7 linked regions of the Homo sapiens genome follow. The protein of the gene in region 1 interacts with the protein of each later gene in a pairwise test. Each region holds a gene or a part of one and is shown on either strand. Other genes may lie near its edges.

Region 1 (3,500 bases):
ATTCTTGCATTATCCCACCTTGATTAATCTTTTCTTACATTAAATCTGCTTTCAAATACTGAGTTCCAGAGATGGGGGAGAATTATCTTATTCTAAATAAAACTCTCTTTGATCTCAACGGCAATTTTTATTTGCACTTACTGTCTGCAATGAAGACAAAGGGAAACCAAATATCTAACACTGGCTTCAAACACTAAATGACAACCTCATATTTAATTTTCAATGACTTCTACAGCAATATTATAATCTTGAATATATCATAAATCATTCCTTTGAAAATTACATCACTGCCCTACATTTTTGTCATGCTTTTACAGTTTACATATATTATTACTTTTGATCCTCATAGCTGTTGTGAGGGGTAACCAATGATCTTTCCCATTGGACAAAGAAACAACTGAGGTTCCTCTGAACTGTTATGTGACAGGGCCACTTCTGACTGTAATTTAAGTGTTTTCTCTGCCACTCTTGTGCTGGGAAGGCAACAATTTTGGAAAGAGTAATGGATACTACATCTCACATCGTTGTCCTAAGAATTAAATAAAATTACAAATGTAACATGCCCAACTTAATACCTAATGATGCAAGAATACATGGATTCCATCTACGTCATCAAAAAAGAAAACTATTTCATCACTGATATATACAGAACAGCCACAACCGCCCTTCTAGTAGAGAAGCCAAAGAGCAAGAGAACAGGCACAGTTTTAAAAGGTCTAAGTATGCCGGGCGTGGTGGCTCACGCCTGTAATCCTAGCACTTTTGGAGGCGGAGGCGGGTGGATCACAAGGTCAGGAGATCGAGACCACCCTGGCTAACACAGTGAAACCCTGTCTCTACTGAAAACACACAAAAAATTAGCCAGGAGTGGTGGTGGGCGCCTGTAGTCCCAGCTACTTGGGAGGCTGAGGCAGCAGAATGGCGTAAGCCCAGGAGGTGGAGCTTGCAGTGAGCTTGAGATTGCGCCACTGCACTCCAGCCTGGGCAACTGAGCAAGACTCCATCTTAAAAAAAAAAAAAAAAGTCTAAATAGAGGACTTGCTTTGTTTTTAAGTGATTGCACTTGCCTATTTTGCAGCAGCAAACATTCTGAATTAGCAATCGTAATACAAAACTGGATTTTCTCAGCCTTAAAAAAATTTTTTTTAATTATTAGTTTTTAGCTTATTATTTTCCAACTCTGGATACAGATTGGCAGAACCTTTATGTTTGAATGCCCCTTTAAGAACAACCACATAAGTGTTTGCGTATGTACATATGTGGGGTACACACATGTGCTGATACATATTTGCACATGAGTAGAAGAGGGTTAGGACATAAAGTATGTGTGGGATGGAGGAATTAGGGCAGGATACAATCACTTTCTGCACTGTGAACAATGACTACTTTTACTGTTTTTCTTTTTTATTTTGAGACGGAGTTTTGCTCTTGTTGCCCAGGCTGGAGTGCAATAGTGTGATCTTGGCTCACCACAACCTCCGCCTCCTGGGTTCAAGAGATTCTCCTGCCTCAGCCTCCCAAGTAGCTGGGATTACAGGCATGCACTACCATCTCCAGCTAATTTTGTATTTTTAGTAGAGACAGGGTTTCTCCAAGTTGGTTAGGTTGGTCTTGAACTCCCAACCTCAGGTGATCCACCCACCTCGGCCTCCCAAAGTGCTGGGATTACAGGCGTGAGCCACTGAACCCGGCCTTTATTGTTTAAGTCTACAAAATCTTTGGGTCAGTTTATATATTACAATAATCTATTTAAAAATTTAGGTTTATCAGAAACATTTTATTATATGTAGTACTTTATATTTGTTTTAAAAATCAGTATTTTCTATTACTTGCATGGTTTTGACATTATAACTAATTCAAGTGTTGACATGAAAGAAAAACATACAGGAAAAAAGTGCCTTTCAAATGAGAGTTAAATTTAACATACCTGGAAATCTACTGCTCTTTTATTTGCTAGGTCGGCCTTGTTTCCCGATAAAGCTATTACAATGTTAGGACTTGCTTGCCTCTGAAGTTCTTTAACCCAATTTTTTGCTCTTGCAAAGGACTCCTGTTAAACAAAGAAACAGCCATTGAGCACAGGCTCAAAAAATGGTTACCAAGCATCTTTGTGATACAAGGCTTTAAAAGACTGTCCCAAGTGACTGTGGGAAAGAAATTATTAGGACTATTGTATTATGAGACATTTTCGTTTTTTTTTAAAACCAGATTTTCTAATTCACAAAAGCTTCAGCAGAAAGGTCATGACTATCAGAAAAAGATTTTCCAAAACATTTAATCAAAATTCTGAACACCAAAAGTGGGTACTCAAATTAGTTTTACTGTGGAATGCATCCATACTTACCTCATTTGTGATATCATATACAACTATGGCTGCTTGTGCTCCTCTGTAGTACATTGGTGCTAGGCTATGGTATCGTTCTTGACCAGCTGTATCCCATATTTCAAACTTTACTGTAGTGTCATCAAGACATACAGTTTGGGTTAGAAAAGCAGCTGAAAGAAAAGGACTACAATAAGTCAATCATTTTTCTCCAAATGTTTTCATAATATAGAAAACACCTGCTTGTATACATCTATCAAAATGTCACACTGTACCCCGTAAGTATGTACAACTATTATGTGTCAGTTAAAAGTAATAAATGAGGGGGGAAAAAAAAAGAAAACACCTAGAAACTTGACAGATTGCATACCCACAGCTGATAATAGCTTTAAATACTGGCAAACCTGTGCTTCTAAGCTATTTACATATATGCTTACATATAGGGCCTTTGTAGTGAAATCACAGATTGAAAAACTTCTGCATCTTAAAAAAGCTTGTTATAATACTAAATAAACTTAAGACTACATTTCTTTTCCTTCTTCTTTTTTTTTTTTTTTTTGATACAAGAGTCTCAGACTAGAGTGCAGGGGCGTGATCTCAGCTCACTGCAACCTCCGCCTCCCGGGTTCAAGCAATTCTCCTGCCTCAGCCTCCTGAGTAGCTGGGACTACAGGCATGCACCACCACACGTGGCTAATTTTTGTAGTTTTAGTAGAGATGGGGTTTCACCATGTTGGCCAGGCTGGTCTCGAACTCCTGATCTCAGGTGATCCGCCCACCTTGGCCTCCCAAAGTGCTGGGATGACAGGCGTAAGCCACCAAGCCCAGCGAAGACTGCATTTCAAAATTGCTCTACAATTAAAGAAATGCACTGATAGTCTTAAAAAATGAAGTTGGGGGAAACCCAGTGTGCCTAAAAGTACCATCTATACTGCTGACACCATGTCCTGTTCCATTTTACTAGTTTTTATTGGCGCACACTGGCAATTTAGTCCCAGTCAGTTACCACCAAATTAGTATTTCTTGTTATATTATCTTTTTTTTTCTTTTTCTGAGACACAGTCTTGCTCTATCTCCCAGGCTGGAGTGCCTCCCAAAAGTGCTGAGATTATAGGCGTGAGCCACCGTACCAGGCCTCTTGCTATATTATTTTTTAAAACATTGTGACACTTTAATT
Region 2 (3,500 bases), on another chromosome or scaffold:
CATGCGGAGGTGCGGTTTTTCAGTGCTGGCACTGGGGATTCCTCCCTCTCCATCCTTCCTCCTTTCCTTCCTTCCTTACGTGTTCATTGAAACCTACTCTGTGCCAGCTATGCATGCAGAAGGCAGGGTCAGGCTGACACGGGGCCCTTCCCAGAGAGGCTTCAGCCTCACACACACTGCGCCACGGGTCTGCCTTGGGTACAAAAAGGGTGAGAGGTCAGTCTCCCTGGGGAAGGAGCACCTGGAGCTTATTCAAAGGTGGAGCAGGAAACCATGTTCTAAGAAGGACGCCAAAGGCCAGCAAGGTTCAGCTGCAGTGCTGACTGAGGGGGTGTGGCCACCGCAGGGGACATGTGTCCTGTTTTGCACCTGGACAGCCCCTCTTCAATACTTTCCTGTGGTATGTGGCTTCACTAAGGAGAAGCTAGAAAACCCCCTCTCCCAGCTCCCTTTGCACCTGTGCTGCAGGAGTGTGACCAGACGCCTCCAAGCCAAAGCGTGGATTTGGAAATGACGGTGAAGGTAGTGATGGTGGCATGTGGCACTGAGGGACAGCAGTGGTGGGGGCTCTGGTCAGTGGTGTGAGTGGTGATGTCTTGCCCAGCAGGGGTGCCGTGGGGCCTATACTGGCACCAACCCCTGCTGGAGTCTGGACTTCATTCCTGCTGCCCATCTTCCATCCCGACTCTCTGGCCCTCCTGGAGATCCTATGGGCTATCTCATACTCTTCCATAAACTCCTTTCTTGCTTAAAACAGTTCCAGTGGATTCTCATGTTTGCAGGTAAGAACCATGGCTGCATTTTCTGAAGCTCTGTCCTGGCCAGGAGTTGGAAGGAAGATGACTGCCTCAGGTGATCAGGCTTGGCTGGCAGTGGCAGTGCTGCCCACCCGAGAAGGGGTGGACAGATGAGGGCCTCAGGAGGGAGGGAGGGTGGCCTAGCACTTGGCTGTTGGGCAGGGGCAGATCCCACCTGGCAGCATGCTGTACATTGGGAGGGGGCTGTGAGATGGCCTGCAAGCCCCATTCAGCCTAGGAGGCCAGGAGTCTATAGAGTCCAACCTCATTTTGGTGGGGAACCAGGCCTAAGGTCACACCCAGAGCGCTGGAATGGAGCTGGCCAGGGGAGACCAAGCACTAGCAGGAAGTCCAGGGTGGGCAGGGAGCAGCTCCGGGGAGGCGAGAGGGGGCTCAGAGGGCAGATGAGTAGGGTAGGATGAGGGGTCGATAGAGGACACATGGCACCACCTGGTAACCCCAAACTCCAGCAGCTAGCACCAGACCTGACACACAGGTTCTCAAAACATATGTATGATGGAATAAATCAATGCATGAAACCGAGCACAGCCACTTTTTTGCCTTTGCAGACTCAGAGAACAGAAATCCCAGCCCTTCATCTCTCAGGCCAGAAACCCAGGCATCATCTGGGGATTCCTCCTACCCATTCTCCAATTCCAATCTCCATTCCTGTGGCATCTCTTGACCTGCCTGTTTCTCCCCATCCCCACTGCCCCTGTCTTGGTCCAGGCCACCATCATCTCTCTCCTGGACATTGTGGCCTCCTCCCAAGTTCTCTTCCAGCCTCCCATCCTGGCCTCCTCTGTCCATCTTCCACTCTATCTCTAAAGTGACTTTTCTAAAGCACTAATCTGACCATGTGAATGCTTTCATCCCTCAGTTCAAAACACTCCCCTGGGCTGGGTGCAGTGGCTCACACCTCCCAGCTCTTTGGGAGGCCAAGGTGGGCAGATCACTTGAGGTCAAGAGTTTGAGACCAGCCTGGCCAACATGGTGAAACACTGTCTCTACTAAAAATACAAAAATTAGCTGGGCATGGTGGCACGTGCTTGTCGTCTCAGCTCTTCCAGGGGCTGAGGCAGGAGAATCCCTTGAACCTGGGAGGCAAAGGTTGCAGTAAGCTGAGATTGAGCCACTGCATTCTAGCCTGGGCAATAGAGTGAGACCCTGTCTCAAAAACAAACAAACAAACATTCCTGTCTCCTATCTCATTACAGGACAAAGTCTGAACTCCATGGCACATAAGGCCTTCATGAACTAACTATGGCCTATGGATCCAGCTGTGTCTCTCAATCCCCCCACCCTTATACCCTCACCTCTCCTCAAGTCAGGCTGCACCCCAGCTGGTTCCCCAGCCTGTCAAGCTCTCACATGTACACAGTTCCTGTCTGTCCTCTCTGCGTCCTCTCTATATACAGTGTGCTCCTACTCATTGTCCAGCACCCAACCCTACCATCACCTCTTCCTAGAAGTCTTCCCAGACTGCATCCTTCTCCCAGCCAGAGAGTGTCAGACATTTCTTGGACATAATTTTGCTAGCTTCATATTTACAAAATTGTTTAAGCTGTATTGTAAATAACTGTTTCTGAGCAAGTCCCCCACCCAACTGTGAGCTCCTAATGTCCAGCAAGTGACCTGGCTCAGTACATATTGATGAATAAACGAATGAACACATAGAAGGTGGGAACGGTGAATGATTAAAATCATTAGCTGTGGCCCAAGAGAATTTGAAAAAAAAAGATGACAAAGCCCTGAAACCGTTTTCTGATGTGAGAATAGCATGCTTCTCCATGGAAGGATTCCTTTGTATTCCATAGCCTTAAAAACGACCATTATTTAAAAAGAGACAATTACATGTAACACTTTGTGCATCTTGCCTCTCTTAAAGCACAACACCCATTATGCCTAGGAAAACACTTCATCCAGAATTTGGCTCAAACAGCTGACAATGAGACACAGGCTGAACCGACTGAGGCCACATAAAGACACAAGAGTGGAAATCCCCAGCTGGAGACTGGCTTGGCGGGTTTTGTGTTGACTGGCTTATTTGTCTGTCTTATTTTCCAGCCAGAGCCCATACTAATCTGTGGTTAGAGTTGGTGCCACTTTTAGTTGTACCCTGCCTTGTCCCACAGCCTTTAAAGTGTCTTGTGAAGGTCCTCTAATAAGGCAAGATTTTTCTTTATAGCGAGAAAAATGAAGCTAAGAGAAAATTAGACACAAAGTGTTTGCCATGAAGCCTTAGTCTGGTTAGTCAAAGCAGATTTGGCTCTGAACTTCCCAAGGCAAAGAAGGAAACAGGAGGAGCTCTATTAGTGGAAAAGCAATTCTAGTGCAGAAGTGACTGCACAGGGATATTGACACCAGACAACAGTTTCTTCCACGGTTCCCTAAAGACAGGAACACCATCGGCCGGGTGCGGTGGCTCACGCCTGTAATCCCAGCACTTTGAGGGGCCGAGGGGGGCGGATCACGAGGTCAGGAGATGGAGACCATCCTGGCTAACATGGTGAAACCCCATCTCTACTAAAAAATACAAAAAATTAGCTGGGCGTGGTGGGGGGCGCCTGTAGTCCCAGCTACTCGGGAGGCTGAGGCAGGAGAATGGTGGGAGGTGGAGCTTGCTGTAAGCCGAGATCACACCACTGCACTCCAGCCTGGGCGACAGAGCAAGACTCCGTCTCAAAAAAAAAGAAAAAAGTA
Region 3 (3,500 bases), on another chromosome or scaffold:
GGTCAATTCTCTAGGGAAGGGGGGGAGCCGGGCACCATTAGCAGCCTACCTTGCAGCAGCCAGAGAAAGTTCCTGGTGCCCAGGAAGGGATAGGGGGTGGGCACCAACAGCGTCCACTGCATAGGCCTCTTTTGTCCTAAGGGGTTCCTGAGTCTGTGAGCCCCACCGCCCTCTCCTCCCTGCCACCTCCTCCCAGGGCACTGACCGAGCTCCTCCTCGGAGTGCAGGGCGGGGTCCACCAGGGCCTTGAGCTCGGTGCTCTGCAGCAGGTAGCTCTTGAGCTGGGTCATCATGGTGCGAATCTCCTGCAGCATCTCCGTGCTGGAGGTCTGGCGCGCCATCATCTCCAGGCTGTACACCTTGTAGTCCTGCACCAGGCTGCCAAAGTACGAGCCCTTGTCCTGCGCCAGCTCCACCACCTTCTTGTACAGCTTGCGGTTGTTGGAGAGGAAAGCGTGGAACATGCTGCTGAAACTGGCAAAGCTCAGCCGGTGCCGAGCCTTGCCCAGGATCATGGAGGGCTTCTTCTTCACGCTGGGGCTGCTGAACTGCTCCAGCTCCTCCTCCGTGCTGCTGGTGGAGTAGGAGTCCTGGTCGGTGGCCATGACAGACACCCCCAAGCTGTCTGAGAGGGAGGCCAGGGAGCCCTTGAACTCTGGAGAGCTCTGGGAATGGGCAGTGGCCTGGGCAGGAGGGTGCTGAGTCCCAGCCTGAGAAGCAGGGCTTTGGCCCTCTCTGGGTGGACCCGGCGTGGGTGTCTCCAAGGCCATCGCCTGTGTGCAGAGCTCAGCGTTCTCTAAGGGAGCTGGGAGGGTCGAGGCCAGTTGTCGAGAGATCCGTTTTTTCCTGGGGGGCGGGACTGGGGGTTGTTTGGCTGTCCTGGGCAGCTCTGGCATGCTGTGAGGATCGCTGGCTTTCACCTCTGTGTCCTGGCCTTGCTCCGTGCTCTCCCGGGGCGTGTCCTCAGGGCCGTCTGAGGTCCCTTGGGGAGGCAGGCTGAGCTGGTCCCCCTCTGCCGCCATCCCCGGACTTTGGTCTTCTAAGGACACCCTCTCGGAAACGCGGCGTCTGGGAGGGGCAGTGGGAAGGTTCTTCTTCGCAGGCAGTGGCGGGGCGGGGACCTGCTGCAAGGGACTGGAGGCTGCCCCTGGCTTCATCGCTTCCTCCCTGAGGGGGCCCAGGCCTGCAGTGGGGCATGGGAGTCTCTCGCAGGTCATCATGGGCGGCTGGTTCGGATGGTCTGGGGGACCTGGGGCATGGGGTGTGACGTGGGGGGCAGGCACTGGGGGAGAGGTGGGCAAAGGACAGGCAGGGGCGGGGGCAAGAGCAGGGAGCACAGGGGGCTGGGCTGGGCTGCAGGGCTGCAGGGGCAGCACTGGGGGAGGGGGTGGTGGGCGGCGTGGGGCCCACCTGGAGGTGGGTGAGGTGGCATCAGAGGTGGGCGGCAAAGGGCGTGCAGGGCAATTTCCAAGAGGTGGCTGGTCGGTGGGCAGGGCGCTGCTGCAGTCCTCGATGAAAATAGGATTCACAAACCACAGGCGGTCATTTCCTACCGACAGCTCGATTTCACAGGCACAGTTTGCGTCATGGGCTGTGGGCCTGAGGCTGGAGACTAGGGGGAATCCGGGGGCCCGGTCTCTTGGGGGCTCTGCTGGCTTCCCTCTTTCTTGTGGAGGATTCAGCGAGGAGTCCCAGAAACCTGTGGAAGCAAGAGAGGGGCAGGGGGTCAGTCTGTGCCAGGGACTAGGTGTTGCTGTGCTGGGCGGGGTCTGTGGGCGGGGTCCACGGGTGGGAGGGCTGTTCAAGGCATTTGCTTCACTACTCCGAGGTTGAGGTTGTTTTCCCCTCTTGGACGCTTTCAAACCTCTCCCACCACTTCCTGCCTCGAGAGGGGAAGCCCCACTCAGTCCTCCCCAGCAGTGTAGGGTGAGGCCGGGGGTGATGTGATAAGCTCAGCTTCAGTTCTCTTCCTTGGTGTGAGAGCCCACATTGGAGGGCATTGATGACACAGGGTGGGGGGTGACAACACTGTGCTCTGGAGCCGTGGGGAAGGCATGGTGAGAGCACAGGGGACGGAAGGCCTGGAATTCCTGCGGCCAACCAGCTGGGTGCTCTGGGGCAGGTGGTTTGACCTTCCTAGGCCTCAGTCTAGTCATCCCTAAAATGGGGTCACAACAGTACACACATCACAGGCACACGAGGAGGAAGGAACATTGGGCCTGTTTTGGCCTCCATGGTTATTATATGTGGGAAGGACGAACCTATGGATTGTGGCCAGCGAGATCAGACCCGGCTGTCCAAGCGGGGAGCAGCCACCCACCACAAAGTGATTCTGACTCCAGTCAACCTCGAGCTTAAAATAAGAAGCTGGTCGTCTGCCCCAGTCAGGGGAAGCCAAGGCTCCTGCACCGTGGAGCTGAGTTCCAGTGCGTGCCTCTCTACCGACCCAGTCCCCAGGGGCTCAGTCATGGCTGTGGCCACCAAAGCAGGCTAGGGACAGGCAATCTTGATCTGTGGGGACCACACTCTGCCAAGCATCTGACGGAGGCTCAGGACCCTCCAAAGAGCACACAGGGATGCTACATCTTGGGAACAATTGCAGTCAGTGCATAGGCCACCCTGCGTTCACTCAAGCTTCCTCCTGGAGAGAAACAAGGGTCCCAGGTCTTGTTCAGCCTGCTAGGTTTGGAGCTGGACAGAGGATGACCCAGGCAGATGCAGAGTTCCTTGTGAATTGGTGCAGCCAGCCTTTCACCCAGGGCTCTTCACTCCTGGGAGGAATTCACCCTTAAGAAAACTATGGAAAATAACATCAAGGATAATCAGAGGAGCAAACATCCATGGCGTTCTTGCTGCGCGTGAGCCCACGGGCTCCTTGCTTTACCTGGGTTATCTTGCCGACCCCTGATCATAGGCCTTGCCCCCAGTTCACAGATGAGGGTAAGAGGCTCAGAAACATGAAAGCACTCGCCCTGTGTCACCGGATTGGGGAGTGAGACGCTGGGATTTGACCAGGTCGGGCTGGTTCTACAGCCTGTGTGTTTAGCCTCCGTGTTAGGCGGCCTTCCTTCATAGGAACTTGCGACACTTCCCATATTTTGGTTGCTCTCCCGGCATCGGTGAGTAGCAGGGTGGCTTGCAGCCCAGAACTCAGGATGTGGCAACAACACAACAGGCTCTTGATGTTGAAAGGAGACCTCACAAGATGGCCTGGAGCAGCCAAGCGTGTGCTCGCTCTAAGAGGTGGGCACTATCAGGGATGTAGGCATTTGCCATCTTGCTGGCTGGGGTCACCAACGCAATCAGGGTAAGCAGGTGCCTTTCCAGGACAAAGGGACTGAAGAAACAGACCGGAAGTGAACTGCGACCCACCAGCTGTGTGCACCCCTCTGAGGTGCACCCCCCAGCCCTGTCCTGGGCAGATACCCTGTGTCTGGCTGCCTGAATATCACAGCCAGTGGAGAGAGACCAGGTCTCATCACACTAACAAGCATGACAAC
Region 4 (3,500 bases), on another chromosome or scaffold:
CCTAAAACCAAAGAGGACCAGGAGAACAATCAAGAAAATGCAGAGGCAGGCCAGGCGCAGTGGCTCACGCCTGTAATCTCAGTACTTTGGGAGGCCGAGGTGGGCAGATCACCTGAGGTCAGGAGTTTGAGACCAGCCTGGCCAACATGGAGAAACCCATCTCTACTAAAAATACAAAATTAGCTGGGCGTGGTGGCACATGCCTGTAATCCCAGCTACTCGGGAGGCAGGAGAATAGCTTGAACCCAAGAAGCGGAGGTTGCAGTGAGCAAGGATCGTGCCATTGCGCTCCAGCCTGGGCAACAAGAGCGAAACTCTGCCTCAAAAAAATAAAAAAAAAATAGAAAATGCAGAGGCAAAATTCAAATCAGGAAATACCCTCTCCCTCTAAGAGCACCAGCATTAAAGGGACTGGCCCATCTCAAGCGTGCTGGGTAGGGAAGGAGCAGAGTGAAAGAAACCTCCTAGAAATCAGCAAATTTCTGGAGAAGAGGGGAAAGAAACAGCAGCACATTACAAAACATGACCAAACTTCATCTTCCGGCCTCTTTCTCCACCTGAGGACTGCAGATCTGCGGGTTGGAGAGCTGGAGGAGGAGAGCTAGAGAGCAGAGCTGAGAAGGAAGTTTTAATAACTTTCTCAGCCAGCCAGAAGCCTTCCCTACCATCTCCACCTCTCTTATCTGGATGGTGTTTTATGGAAAACAAGCCACCTTCCATCCCTCTGGCTCCTCTGTGAGAGCTTCAAACCCCGTTTCCAAGTCCAGCCCCTGCCTCTACCTGACATTGTGCTGGTGGGCTGGCAAGTCTTCTGCAGCTCCAATCTTAGAAGTCTCCTATCCTGCTATCTTAGAGCTGGAAGGCTCCTCAGGCTTCATCTGGTCCAGAATCATCTGCCCTGTTAGAAGAGAAAAGAGGAAAGTCATTCTATTTTTATTTTTATTTTTTTTTAGACAGAGTCTCGCTTGGTCACCTCAGGCTGGAGTGCAGTGGTGCAATCTCAGCTCACTGCAACCTCTGCCTCCTGGGTTCAAGAGATTCTTCTGCCTCGGCCTCCCGAGTAGCTGGGACTACAGGGTTGCACCACCACACCCGGCTGATTTTTGTCTTTTTAGTAGAGACGGGGTTTCACCATATTGGCCAGGCTGGTCTCGAACTCCTGACCTCGTGATCCCGCCGGCCTCGGCCTCCCAAAGTGCTGGGATTACAAGCATGAGCCACCGCGCCCGGCCAAGCCTTTACTTCCTTTTACTTCTAACCACAGAATTAAAGGCTCTCACTCTACGAAAGGAAGTAGGTGACAACGAGGAGATGTGGTTGAAAGATTTCAAGACAAGTTACATTCCGGTTTTTGAAATCATATTTACCTAAACCTGGCACTGAAGAAAAATTTACTTTTGCCATTTTTCACACAATGAGAATTCAGAAATGACAGTTGTTATCCTGGTCCATAACAGAACCTATTCTCCATGCTATCTGCCATGGAATTCTGGTGTTGGGAATTCTAGATAAATCGGGAAGAATTAGGTAAGTGAGAAGCAAAAAAGAGGAAAATCAAACCACCACTTCAAAGGAGCTGTGAGAAAATCCCAGTTCTCTTTAAAGACATACAAGTGTGGGGGCAAAAATAGCTCCTGTGGGCAGCTCAGCTGTGTCCCGGCCTCTGCTCCTGCCCCAGACACACACTGGCCAAGCCAAGTTTAGGATAAAGGCCACAGCAGAACATTCCTGACTGTTACAGAGGCTTTGGTACCCAAATGGGAGAGACGCTCCCTCCTGCTTCCAGACATGCCTGCTGAGAACCAGATGGCAGAACCTGCTTCCCCAACAGGCCAGCCATCCTGGTTGGTTGGTTCTGTGTGAAGAGAATGGAATTTTAATGTCTTCCTTCAGTGTAAAATATATGTGATATAGGGTTTCCCTCAGAACTATGAGCTGGATGATTACATATTTTTACATTAAAGAGACTGAGCTAGAAATTTTAAAAAGCATGTCATGTCATCATTCAATCCTTACAACACATTCATTCCTTACACAACAGAAAATAAGCCTAGGAGAGACTGATAGTTTCCAAATGGACTCCCAAAACTTTGCCCTGCCACACCATGTAACCCCACCCTGTGAAATGACGGACACATGGCCACCAGCTAGATGGCCCTGGGAATGGAACCCAGTGCTCTATTACGCCTCCTGCTGGCTTGGAGCCTGAGATGGCAAATGGCTGTGGCAGAACAACCACGTGTCAGCTTTGGGAGGGAGTGGGCTCAGCGCTCATCCTCTGCACCATGATTAAAAGTAAAGACATCTTGGCTGGGCGCGGTGGCTCACGCCTGTAATCCCAGCACTTTGGGAGGCTGAGGTGGGCGGATCACTTGAGGCCAGGAGTTTGAGACCAGCTTGGCCACCATGGTGAAACCCTGTCTCTACTAAAAATACAAAAAAATTAGCCAGGCATGGTGATGCATCCCTGTAATCGCAGCTACTTGAGAGGCTGAGGCACAAGAATTGCTTGAACCCGGGAGGCAGAGGTTGCAGTGAGCCAAGATCGCACCACTGCCCTCCAGCCTGGGTGACAGAGTGAGACTCTGTCTCAAAAAAAAAAAGTAAAGACATCTCCAGTCCAATCCTAGCTCTGCTACTCGTGTAGCAGAGTGGGCCTGTGCCCACTTGTTATAACCGTGGGCAAGTTTACTTCACGTCTGTATCAGTTTTCTTTTCGATAGAATGGAATAATAATACCTATGCCTTACTGTGGTTATGAGGATTACGTGAGCTGATGCAAATAAGGCCTTTAGCACACTGCCTGACACATATAAGTACTCAATAAGTATCAGGCAATTAGTAGTCCTAAAAATTTTTAGAAAGTTATTGTTAATATATGGACCCTCCTCATTGAGGTATACTAAAAACTATGTTGAACCATATTAAATTGCCGATATTCATCCATTACAGCCTAGAAAAATGACAACTGTGTATGGTTCCACATAACATGTCCCAGTTGAGAGCATGAGAAAGACTCCTCATCACCATCGGCCCCAGAGGCAGGGGTTTGGTTGGTGGTTCTGAAAGGGCAGAGTAAAAGTGTGACAGAGCACCTGCAGGCTGCTTGTAGCAGAGAAATCAGCTACATCTGGCTGTGGAGGCCTGAAGGGGCTGGGAAGGCCCACTCAGGAGTCCCTCCCCTTTCCTGATCTTGGCTGTCCTCCCACTCATTCATTCATCAGCAAATGGGGACTGAGCACCCCTAAGAGCCAGGCAGCTTCTAAGAGCTGGGACACAACAGTGGGGGAAAAAGTCCTGACCCTTACATTAGAGAATCAGATGACAGGCTGGGCCCGGTGGCTCACGCCTGTAATCCCAGCACTTTGGGAGGCCGAGGTGGGTGGATCACCTGAGGTCGGGAGATTGAGACCATCCTGGCCAACATGGTGAAACCCTGTCCTACTAAAAATACAAAAATTAGCTGGGCGTGGTGGCGTGTGCCTGTAGTCCCAGCTACT
Region 5 (3,500 bases), on another chromosome or scaffold:
GGTTACTCCTGGAGAAGGGAGAGTGGGATCAACAATGGATATACAAAGGGCTTCAAATGTGTCTGTAAATAAATGTGTCTGTATGGGGCAGGGGAGGGGGAGATGGAGAGGAGAAAGGAATTAAAACTATATGGCAAAATGGATGATGGGTATAACAAAGTTCATCAGATCACTTGTACTTTGTATTTCCATGATAATAGACAAAGTCTATGCCTAGACCTACATTAGATGCAAGTAAACATCAACAAAAGTAAATTTACAGACGTTAGGTTCAGCCACCACAAAGGTAGTACAAACTTACATGAAGTAAAGCTATAAAACAGAAACACAGAATCAAGAAACAGCAGCACAGATTTAGGGACATCAAACAAGGGCAATGCAGTGAAAAACAATCATACAGGTTATTTTGATTGCCATATATTTCCCTCTCATTCAAATATTATGAAAGAAAAGATGTTAGCAGACAACATAATCATAAGATATCTTTTTTAGAATAAAGACTAGAAAAATCCCCAGAACATCCTTAATGGAAAAGGCAAACACAGAGAGCATTTACTGTGAAAATGACAGAACAAAGAAACTGAACCTTCATACACAAAAAATGACGGACTGTAAAGTGTTTATTACACATGTTCAGAAGGTAGTCTTTACATATGAGACCTATATACACACGTCTGTATGCATGTGTGTATGTGGCATTATATGTCAATATATATTTACATGCCAATATTGGATTAGTTTTATTGAAAACTTATTGCATGATACTAAATGCAGTATGTTCATCTTAGTTGTGTTTTTTTTTTTTTTTTTAGAATATCTACTATAGCAATTTAAACTAATCACTGGGGAAAGATTCACATGTTTATTCTACAAAAACCCGTTGAACAACCTCATGTCAGGCATTAGGAAAATTCTGGTATGCTACCAGTGAAACAAGATATAATCCCTTTTATCAAGGAACATACTAGCTCTGGTGAAAAGAGGATAAACAACAAAAACACAAGGAAGGCAGACAACAGTTTTTATGTAATTAGTATCAGCTGTACAGACCTTTATAACAAATGCCTCAGGTTTCTAGAGCACTTGGGAGTAAATGGAACTAAGAAGGTAGACAAATCAATCAAAAAAGGAAGGAAGACAAACTATGACATTACCAAATTACTGCATTGATAATCCTTCCAAATAGTCAAAAAAAATTAATTTATGGCAAAAAACCAATTTGAATATTCATGAATTTAATGTAAAAGAACATTTTAAATCTATCAAATCTTACCAAGTATACATTTAGAAAAAAACTGAAAGAAGCAAAAACAAGTTGAATCTATGGACAAGAGATTTGGGGAAATAGCCACAAGCAGGGAAAATTTGAAGGAGAAAGAAAAATAGGCAAGCAAAAGGGAAAGAATAGAAGTAAAGAAAAAAGGAGAAGGGTACCACTTCCAAATTTCACATTTGTATCCCAGAAACTCTGAGTTAAACCCTGTATTACAGGAAAATATTTCAGATGGTTAGATTCAAAATGTTTATCCCTTGCAAGCAAGCCAGCCATTTCAATATCCAACATAAAGGCCCAGCATCCAGTATGTTAGTGTTATTTTGAAAAAACACAGCAACCTCTATGTAGTCAGGTCTTTGGACTTCATCTGCCTTTATCTAGTCTCACCCCTTCTGCTTTTATTTTTCTGAGATTGCTTGAAGAGACTTTTCTTTTATTTTCCTGTCAATATTCTCTGCACTATTATCCTAGAACTCTGTCTCAAAGATTTAACAATGATAATAGATAAAATGTTCTTTGTACTAACATGTATATATAGACAGTTCAATTCTAATAATCACATACTTCTGGGAAAATAACAATGAATTCCTAAGAAAGTGTCAGAGTTACAAATAGTTCAAACACATCTGGAGAAAAATCAGTTACTATAATGACAAAATTCAAAATCTTCACAAAAGGTAAGGATATTACTTGGCATGACTAAGCTTTATCTCTGAAACAGATGATATTAAAGTTCAACTATTCCACAAAATTGAATTCATCTATTTTATCAATATTCTGTAATGACACATGGCTCTTTAGTAGAAAATAAGCATTTACTGATATTAAATCCTGATTATTCCTATACTACAGGCACAAACTATTTCCTGTATTAAAAATACCACCAGTATTTCTAAGCCCTTGAAAGGCTACTAAAAAGAAAAAGTAACAAAAGGCATGAGGTAATTTTTTTAAGTTCCATCATAGTTGGCTAAATATAAAAATCAACCTTATACTATAAAATTATACAACTAAAATTTTAAAAATCAGTTTAATGGAAGGAATCTCTGTTCTTACCATTTGGTCCATGTAAGAGGCAAAGCACCAAAAGGCATCCACTTCATTTTCCATCACATATAAAAGAGGGGAAAGTAAATCACTCATTCCTTGAACATATCCTAAAAAGAAAAGAAAAAATCATCTCTGAAAACCCAAGTTTTATGTAACCTTCTGCAAGTTGTGCATATCACCACCATTTCGCTTAAAATTGTATCTTTCTCCTTTGCATTTAGAAATTGGTAGACACTGATGTTCACCAAGAAAAGAATATAAATGAAGAGGAGGAACTCTAGTCATAAGTAAGAAAGATGAGTTGTTTTAGATTGAGATGTCAAACAATATATAGCTTCCAGTACGTGTCTCAGTGCAGATACACTATCAAGAGTGGGTAATATTTTTAAAAATAATGTGCAAGAGCATCATGAGAAAGAAGAGGGGTGAAGAGATAATCCAGAGGAACATCAAATGTAAGAGTATACACTCAAAGACAGGTTTAAGAAAGACCAGTCAGAGAAGTAAAGAAAAAAATCAAGCGAGAATAATGTTGCAAAAATTAACAAGAAAGTTGCAAGCCCAGAGTGGTTAGCAATGCCAAACTACCATGAGTAAGCCACATAAAACAAGAACTTTGGGTTCAACTGCTTTAACAATCAGACCTTTAGATTCACATAACAGGAGTTACAAAATTAAGAGCCTCTTTTAAATAGTCATATCTACGTCCTTCTTTCTTTTTTTGTTACTCTCTACACCCAACCAATGCCAGCAACTGGGCTTAACCCAATCAATATTTTGTACCTAAAGTGACCACTTACCTACATGTCTCTTGATATTATTACAATTTCTCAATGGTGACAGTAATAGAGCCCTTGATTAAAAGAAAAACTAGAAAATTAAGGAGTCAGATCCCTCACTTAAAAATAAGAAAAAGTGTTAGTTTTACTTTTTCACCTGAACATGTCAAACTTCTTTTTTACTTCCTCTTATAAAACCCTCAATTATCCTTGTTTTACAATTTTCAAGACTTGAAAAATTTTCAGACTTAAGAGGTTCTTGAACCAATGAAGGGACACGAACTTATACTAAGCCTTTTTACTTAAACGTTATCATTCAACTTCGGTAACTTTTGTGTATTTATTAAAATCATGTAGAAATTTCTTTATTGGTAGCTTGGGAAGTCTGGAAAATA
Region 6 (3,500 bases), on another chromosome or scaffold:
GAGGCGGGTGGACTGCCTAAGCTCAGGAGTTTGAGACCACCCTGGGCAACATGGTGAAACCCCATCTCTACTAAAATACAAAAAATTAGCTGGGTGCAGTGGCGGGCACCTGTAGTCCCAGCAACTCAGGAGGCTGAAATGAGAATTGCTTGAACCCGGGAGGTGGAGTTTGCAGTGAGCCGAGATTGGTTCAGTGCACTCCAGCCTGGGTGAAAGAGCAAGACTCTGTCTCAAAAATAAATAAATAAAGATAAAAATAAAAAACATTCAGTATTATGACCCCAAAAACCACAGTGTTTTTTTTTTGTTTGTTTGTTTTTGTTTGTTTTTGAGATGGAGTCTCACTCTGTCACCCAGGCTAGAGTGCAGTGGTGCAATCTCAGCTCACTGCAACCTCCGCCTCCCGGGTTCAAGCGATTCTCCTGCCTCAGCCTCCCAAGTAGCTGGGACTACAGGCATGTGCCACCATGCCCCCCTAATTTTTGTCTTTTTAGTAGAGACGGGGTTTCACCATATTGGCTATACTTGTCTCAAACTACTGACCTTGTGATCCACCCACCTCAGCCTCCCAACCAAAGTGCTGGGATTACAGGCGTGAGCCACCGCTCCCAGACAGAGTGTTTTCATAATACAAACTACAGAAAGCTTGACAAAATCTTCAGTGAAGTGAATGCAGCCATTTCAACAGGGAAACTTGTTCCCTTAAGGGCATATCACAATCTCTGGGAAGACATAGATTTCTAAGTTTATCCAAAGGAATCAGTGTTTCAAAAGATTAAAGTACTGCTTAGAGCACCACACTACAGTCTTCTCATTAGTGCCCAGCAGCACATGTGCTCTGAGCCTTGAGTAGCAGAGAGTAATACAACAATAAGTAAAATGTATTCCCTACCTTCTGAAAGTTCACAGTCTAGGAGGGACTACGTAATTGTTTATTCACTTAGTATTTATATCCCACTCTGTTCTAAAAAGGGATTAGAACTGGCTCACACTTAATCAGAAATAACTTGAATGCAAGAGAGATGGGGACAAATGCACATAAAAGGAAAGTGAAGATGAGAGGATTCTATTAAGGTTGGTGCAAAATTAATTGCAGCTTTTGCCATTAAAAGTACTTGAGCCCAGGATTTCAAGACCAGCCTGGGCAACATGGCAAAACCCTGTCTACAAAAAATACAAAAATTGGCCGGCTGCGGTGGCTCACACCTATAATCCTAGCTCTTTGGGAGGCCAAGGCAGGCGGATAGCTTGAGCTCAGGAGTTCAAATCCAGCCTGGGCCACGTGGTGAAACCCTGTCTCTACAAAAAATTAGCCAGGTATGGTGGCACACACTTGTAGTCCCAGCTGCTTGGGGGCTAAGGCAGGAGGATCGCTTGAGCCCAAGAGGTTTGAGGTGCAGTGAGCCCTCAAGATTGCACCTGTCTCAAAAAAGAAAAAATTAGCTGGGCATGTTGGTGCACAGTTGTGGTCCCAGCTACTCAAGAGGCTGAGGTGGGAGGATCGCTTGAACCTGAGAGGTCGAGGCTGCAGTTAGCTGTGATCATGCCACTGCACCAGCCTAAGTGACAGCAAGACCCTGTCGCAAAAAAAACAGAGTGCAGGCCGGGCGCGGTGGCTCACACCTGTAATCCCAGCACTTTGGGAGGCCAAGGCAGGCGGATCACGAGGTCAGGAGATCCAGACCATCCTGGTTAACAACAGTGAAACCCCGACTCTACTAAAAATACAAAAAAATAGCCGGGCATGGTGGTGAGCACCTGTAGTCCCAGCTACTCAGAAGGCTGAGGCAGGAGAATGGCATGAACCCAGGAGGCAGAGCTTGTAGTGAGCTGAGATCGCACCACTGCACTCTAGCCTGGGCGACAGAGCGAGACTCCATCTCAAAAAAAAAAAAACAAAAAACAGTGCAGATAACTTCTAGTCCCTAGCATGGGCCTGAATGAATGAAGAATGGAGAAAAAATTGCGTGGCCCCAAAGAACAAATTTTTCTTCCTACATGTGACACTATCTTTCAGCCCCAAAGACCTTGGACTCTGGCCACTCTTTCCCCAGGTTAAAAGACCTCAGTTCTTTTCATGCCCAATGGGCCTACCCTGTACTGCTGCACCTCTTCATCTCGTTTTTGCCTCACAAGTGCGATCTGGTCCTCCAGGTTCCTGTTTTGCAGGCGGAGCTGCCGGGCCTCTGCTTGCAGGGGTCTCAGAGCCTCCTTCATTTCCTGGATCTCAGCCTGGGTTCTCTGCAGAGCTTTGGTCCCAGCTTCTTTCCTCTCTAGGAGCCGCAGGAACTGAGGCTCATACTCCTCCTCCAGGTCCTGGCGGCTCTCTGCCATGAGATTTTCAAACTGGGCAGAGAGTCGCCGGCTTTCCTGGAGAAAGTGCCCATCCCTCTGGCTTGGAGGGGCTTCTAGTTGTTGCCGCAGCTGCTCCTTCTGCTTCTGATAGGCATCCCGGAGCTGGGCCAGTTCCTCTGAGAGCTGGGTTGCCCTTGTAGTCAGCACTTCCCGGAAATCGGCAAACTGAGCCACGTCCTGCTGGCGGCACTCCAGCTGGTATTGGTAGGCCACACATTCCTTTGTCACTTTGAAAAGCTTCTGCTTGACCAGCCGGATCTCCTCCCTTAGGCCATCTCTCTCCAGCTCTGCTTGGGCATGGAGCTTGTAGGCAGCCAGGATGTCTTGATGGACTTGCTGTACCTCCTGCAGGGCTGGTTCCCGGAGCAATACAAGCTCATGGATGAGCTGATCCCTCTCCTCTTCCAGCTGGGCCACAGCTTGGACACACTGCTGGAAACGCCCCTCTAGCAATTCCAGGTCCTCTATGCTCAGGTTCTCCTCCATGCTGGGGCTCTGCTCGGCTCTGAGGCTCTCCTCAGGGTTAGATTTCTCCGCCCTTGTGACTGTCTCTCCCTCATAAACAACGTGCTCTGGGCTTGTGGGCTTTCCTGGCTCCACGGGCCCCTCCACAAACTGTATCCGATCTGGCTCCGTGGTTTCCTCCACACACACTGTCTCCTCTGGATTCCCAGGCTCCTCCACATGCAGAGCCTCATCTGGCTGCATGGCCTCCTCAATATACAGGGCCTCCTCTGCCTTCTCAGTCTCTTGCACATAGAGTGTCTCATCAAGGTCACCTGTGTCCTCCAGGTAGAGAATGTCTTCGAGGTTTAAGGACCCCTCTGAAGATAGAGTAACTTCTGGGTTCAAGGCTTCTGCCTCATTTAGGGATCCAGAGTTCTTTGGAAGAGGAGAATTGGCCTCTACTCTTGTTTTCCTGCAAAAGAAATGATTGAAAGTGAAAGGGCAGCCACAATCCCAGGATGGTGCAATTCTGGAGCCAGCAGCCATGGGCCTAGACTACCTCAGGTTCTTAGATGTCAGCAGCCATTCGTCTGCTCCCTCCACTCTGTCAATCCACCCCTCCACACACCCAACCACGGTGTAGATCCCCTGCCAGCATCCCAGCGACATCACCATATGGTCTCTGCTTATGCAGCTCC
Region 7 (3,500 bases), on another chromosome or scaffold:
TAATCAAAACAGATTCAAGGAGAAGAAGAAAATCAGAATAGCCCTATATCTGCATAATGAATTTTATAATTAAGTCTTCAAGAAAGCTCCAGGCCCAGAGGCCTTCACTGGTGAATGCCACCAAAATTTAAAGAAGAAATGCTATTTCAACACAAACACTTTTAGAAAATAGAGGAGGAAGGAATATTTTCCAACTCATTTTCTGAGGCCAGCATTACCCTGATATCAAAACTAGACAAGAATATTAGAAGAACACTAAAAACCAATATCTCTGTTGAATTGAATTCAACAGATTTAAAAAGATCCTTAATAAAATAATGGGAAATGGAATGTAGTGAAATATTTTAATAAAGGGTAATATACCATGACCAAGAGTGGTTTATCCCAAGAATGGAAGGCTGATTTAACATTCAAATGGCAACCATGTACTTCATCATATTAACAAAATAAGAAAGAAAAAACACATACTTATCTCAATAGATGCGGGGAAAAAACATATGATCTATTTCAACACCCATTCATCATAAAAACCCTCAGCAAAAGGAGAAGTCCATCAACCTGATAAAAGGTGTTTACAAGAACCCTGGTTAACACTATACTCTATGGTGAGAGAGCTTTCCTTCATCGAGAGGGAACAAGGCTCTTCCCACTTCTATCCAATATAGTATGGGAGGTTCTGGTCAACAAAGTAAGACACACAAAGGAAGTTAGTTAAGCAATCACAGATATAAGGTCAATATACAAAAATAAATTCTATTTCCATATACTGGCACCAAACAACTGGAAACTAAAATAAAAATATGCAATATACAATAGCATCAAAAGCCACAAAATACTTAGGGATAAACTTTACAAAGTATCTACAAGACTTGGACACTGCAAACTACAAAACATTGCTGAGAGAAATTTATAACTACCAAAATAGAGATTTATGCCATAGATTTACTATTGCTGAGATGTCAAATCTTCCCAAATTGATTTATAAATTCAATGGAATTCCAACAAAATTCCAAGCATTTTTGTAAAAACTGATAAGCTGATTCTAAAATGTACATGGAAATGTTAAGGACCTGGAATAACCAAAAACAATTCTAAAAAGAACAATAACAGAGAATTCGTATCACTTGACTTCAAAAATTAGGTATCAACAGGGTGAGGTACTGGTAAAGGACAGACAGATCAAAAGAACAGAATAGAGTCCAGAATAGACCATTACAAATATGTTCAACTGATTTTCAACAAGCTACCAAGGTAACTCAATGGGAAAAAAGCCAGTGTTTTTAATAAATGGTGCTATAACAACTGTGTATCAGTATGTAAAAATATAAACCTCAACCTTTACCTTATACTATCTGCAAAAATCAACTTGAAATAGCTCATAGACCTAAACATATAAGATACAACTATGAAACTTAAAATTTTAAGTTTTTTTCAATTTATAAAAACTTGTAAAAATTATTTTTTTAAGCCCCAAAAACTTCTAGAAGAAAATAAAATATTTGCAGTCATGGGGTAGTCAAAGATTTCTCAGATAGAACATAAAAAGCATGAACACCAAAAGAAAAAAAACGGTAAACTGAACTTCATCAAAATTTAAAACTTCTGCCCTTTAAAAAATACCACTAACAAAAATTAAACCCAAGCCAGATTGGGAGAAAATATTTGCAAAACACGTATCTGACAAAGGACTTGTTAAGAATATAAAAAGAACTTTTACAAGTAAATAGTAAGACAAACAGCCCAATAAAAAATGGGCAAAAGATTTGTTCAGACACTTCAACGAAGATGCACAGTAAAAAATACTCGCCAATAAACATGTAAGATGATTCCCAACATCATTAGCCTTCAGGGAAATACAAATTAAATGATCAGAATGTAAAATGGTACAAACTCTTTGCAGTTTGTCAGTTCTCTTTCTTTCCTTTCTCTTTTCTCTCTCTTTTTTTTTTTTTTTTTGAACAGGGTCTCATTCTGTGGCCCAGGCAGTCAGTGGCTCAATCATAGCTCACTGCAGCCTCGATATCGTGGGCTCAAGTGGTCTTCCTGCCTCAGGCAGGTACTACAGGTGAACGCCCCCATGCCAGCTAATTTTTAAGTTTTTTTTTTTTTTTTTTAGAGATGGGGTCTTGCTATGTTTCCCAGGCTGGTCTCAAACTCCTGAGCTCAAGCAATCCTCTTACCTTGCCCTCTCAAAGTATTGGGTTTACAGGTGTGACCCACTGTGCCCAGCCTGACAGTTTCTTATGGGGTTAAATATACACTTACATGACACAGTAGTTCCATTCCTAAAAGTTTACCCAAGAGAAATAAACCATTTCCACATAAAGACTTGTACATAAATGCTCACTGCAGTTTTATTCATAAAAGTTCCACACTGGAAAGAACCTGAATATCAACCAGTAGGTGAATGGACACATAAGGAAACACTACTCAGTGATGAAAAGAAACAAAAGAGTCATTCACTCAGTAACATGGACACATCTCAAAAACATCATGCTGAGAAAAAGCCTAACATAAAGGAATCACAGGCAAATATGATCATCCACAGGCAATATTTACATGAATTTGATGCCCCTGTAGTTCAGCACTTGATACCAAACCAGGTGATATTATAACAACTTTGGATAGGCTTTAAAATGAAGACAGAACTACTAAAAGTGCTCTGTATGTCTCCAACTATTTAGTATACATATAGCTCTCATATGACCCCCTAAAATACTTAAGTGTACTTATTTATTGTAATTACCACAGTAAAGCCAAAGTCCTGTTGGTGGACTACAGGTTCTGTGTGATCCAGCTCCCACCTGCTCTACCCAGTAGTCTCCTTGCTGTAACTGGCATCTCAGAGTCCTGCTACGACCTCAGGACTTTGGCACTATTTCCCTGCCTAGATCTTGCTCTGCCAGATACCCACATGGCTTAGCCTGTCATTAATTTCAAGTCTCTGCTCAAATGTCACCATCCAGAAAGACCTGTCTTGGCTACCTTAGTTAAAATCACAACATTTCCTATCCCTAGGACTCTCTATTCCCTTCCCTACTCACTCTCCATAGCACTTTTCATCTTCTAATACAGTACACACTTTATTTTGTTAGTCTCTGTTCCTCCTGCAAACAGAGGGTAAGCTCCCAGAAGACAGAGTGTCTGTCCCTGCTGTAGCCTCAGAAACTGCAAAAGCACCTGGCCCGAAGCAGTGCTCAGTAAATATTTGCTGAGTTTGTCTCCTTGACAGGCTACTTTTCACACAAGGACCCTGTCTACTTCATTTTTGCTTCCCAGTGCCTAGTACAAGACAGTTGCTTAATGTTTACTGAATAAGTAAGTAAATGAAATGAATTAGAGAAAAGGATGCCAGTTTAATATAATAGCTTTTAAGAGGCATATTTCCTCACCTGTAATTGTTGCTGTAGATGGGTGATTTCGGCAATTCTCAACTCTCTAGATTTGTTTGTGCTCTCAATTTCTTGCCTTTGGGTGGTCAATCGACATCTGATATCTTG

What was found.
Region 2: the proteins of RAB5A (region 1) and TRIM14 interact in a two-hybrid assay, tested with the Homo sapiens proteins (one large-scale study listed by BioGRID).
Region 3: the proteins of RAB5A (region 1) and RIN3 interact in a two-hybrid assay, tested with the Homo sapiens proteins (one study listed by BioGRID).
Region 4: the proteins of RAB5A (region 1) and SGSM3 interact in a two-hybrid assay, tested with the Homo sapiens proteins (one study listed by BioGRID).
Region 5: the proteins of RAB5A (region 1) and TBC1D15 interact in a two-hybrid assay, tested with the Homo sapiens proteins (one study listed by BioGRID).
Region 6: the proteins of RAB5A (region 1) and SYNC interact in binary tests that used the Homo sapiens proteins (3 or more experiments, as listed by UniProt).
Region 7: the proteins of RAB5A (region 1) and ITSN1 interact in a protein complementation assay, tested with the Homo sapiens proteins (one study listed by BioGRID).

The regions. Positions count from the first base shown.
Region 1 is NC_000003.12:19,974,597-19,978,096, reverse strand, and holds part of RAB5A (ras-related protein Rab-5A), read right to left. Parts: intron 2,497-3,500; coding exon 2,345-2,496; intron 2,051-2,344; coding exon 1,928-2,050; intron 1-1,927. UniProt on the Homo sapiens protein: The small GTPases Rab are key regulators of intracellular membrane trafficking, from the formation of transport vesicles to their fusion with membranes.
Region 2 is NC_000009.12:98,095,223-98,098,722, forward strand, and holds part of TRIM14 (tripartite motif-containing protein 14), read right to left. Parts: intron 1-3,500.
Region 3 is NC_000014.9:92,649,781-92,653,280, reverse strand, and holds part of RIN3 (ras and Rab interactor 3), read right to left. Parts: intron 1,700-3,500; coding exon 206-1,699; intron 1-205. UniProt on the Homo sapiens protein: Ras effector protein that functions as a guanine nucleotide exchange (GEF) for RAB5B and RAB31, by exchanging bound GDP for free GTP. Required for normal RAB31 function.
Region 4 is NC_000022.11:40,398,094-40,401,593, reverse strand, and holds part of SGSM3 (small G protein signaling modulator 3), read right to left. Parts: intron 899-3,500; 5' UTR 788-898; coding exon 781-787; intron 2-780; coding exon 1-1. UniProt on the Homo sapiens protein: May play a cooperative role in NF2-mediated growth suppression of cells.
Region 5 is NC_000012.12:71,912,759-71,916,258, reverse strand, and holds part of TBC1D15 (TBC1 domain family member 15), read right to left. Parts: intron 3,180-3,500; exon of another isoform or gene 3,127-3,179; intron 2,434-3,126; coding exon 2,333-2,433; intron 1-2,332. UniProt on the Homo sapiens protein: Acts as a GTPase activating protein for RAB7A. Does not act on RAB4, RAB5 or RAB6.
Region 6 is NC_000001.11:32,692,771-32,696,270, forward strand, and holds part of SYNC (syncoilin), read right to left. Parts: intron 3,275-3,500; coding exon 2,095-3,274; intron 1-2,094.
Region 7 is NC_000021.9:33,775,001-33,778,500, reverse strand, and holds part of ITSN1 (intersectin-1), read right to left. Parts: coding exon 3,393-3,500; intron 1-3,392. UniProt on the Homo sapiens protein: Adapter protein that provides a link between the endocytic membrane traffic and the actin assembly machinery. Acts as a guanine nucleotide exchange factor (GEF) for CDC42, and thereby stimulates actin nucleation mediated by WASL and the ARP2/3 complex.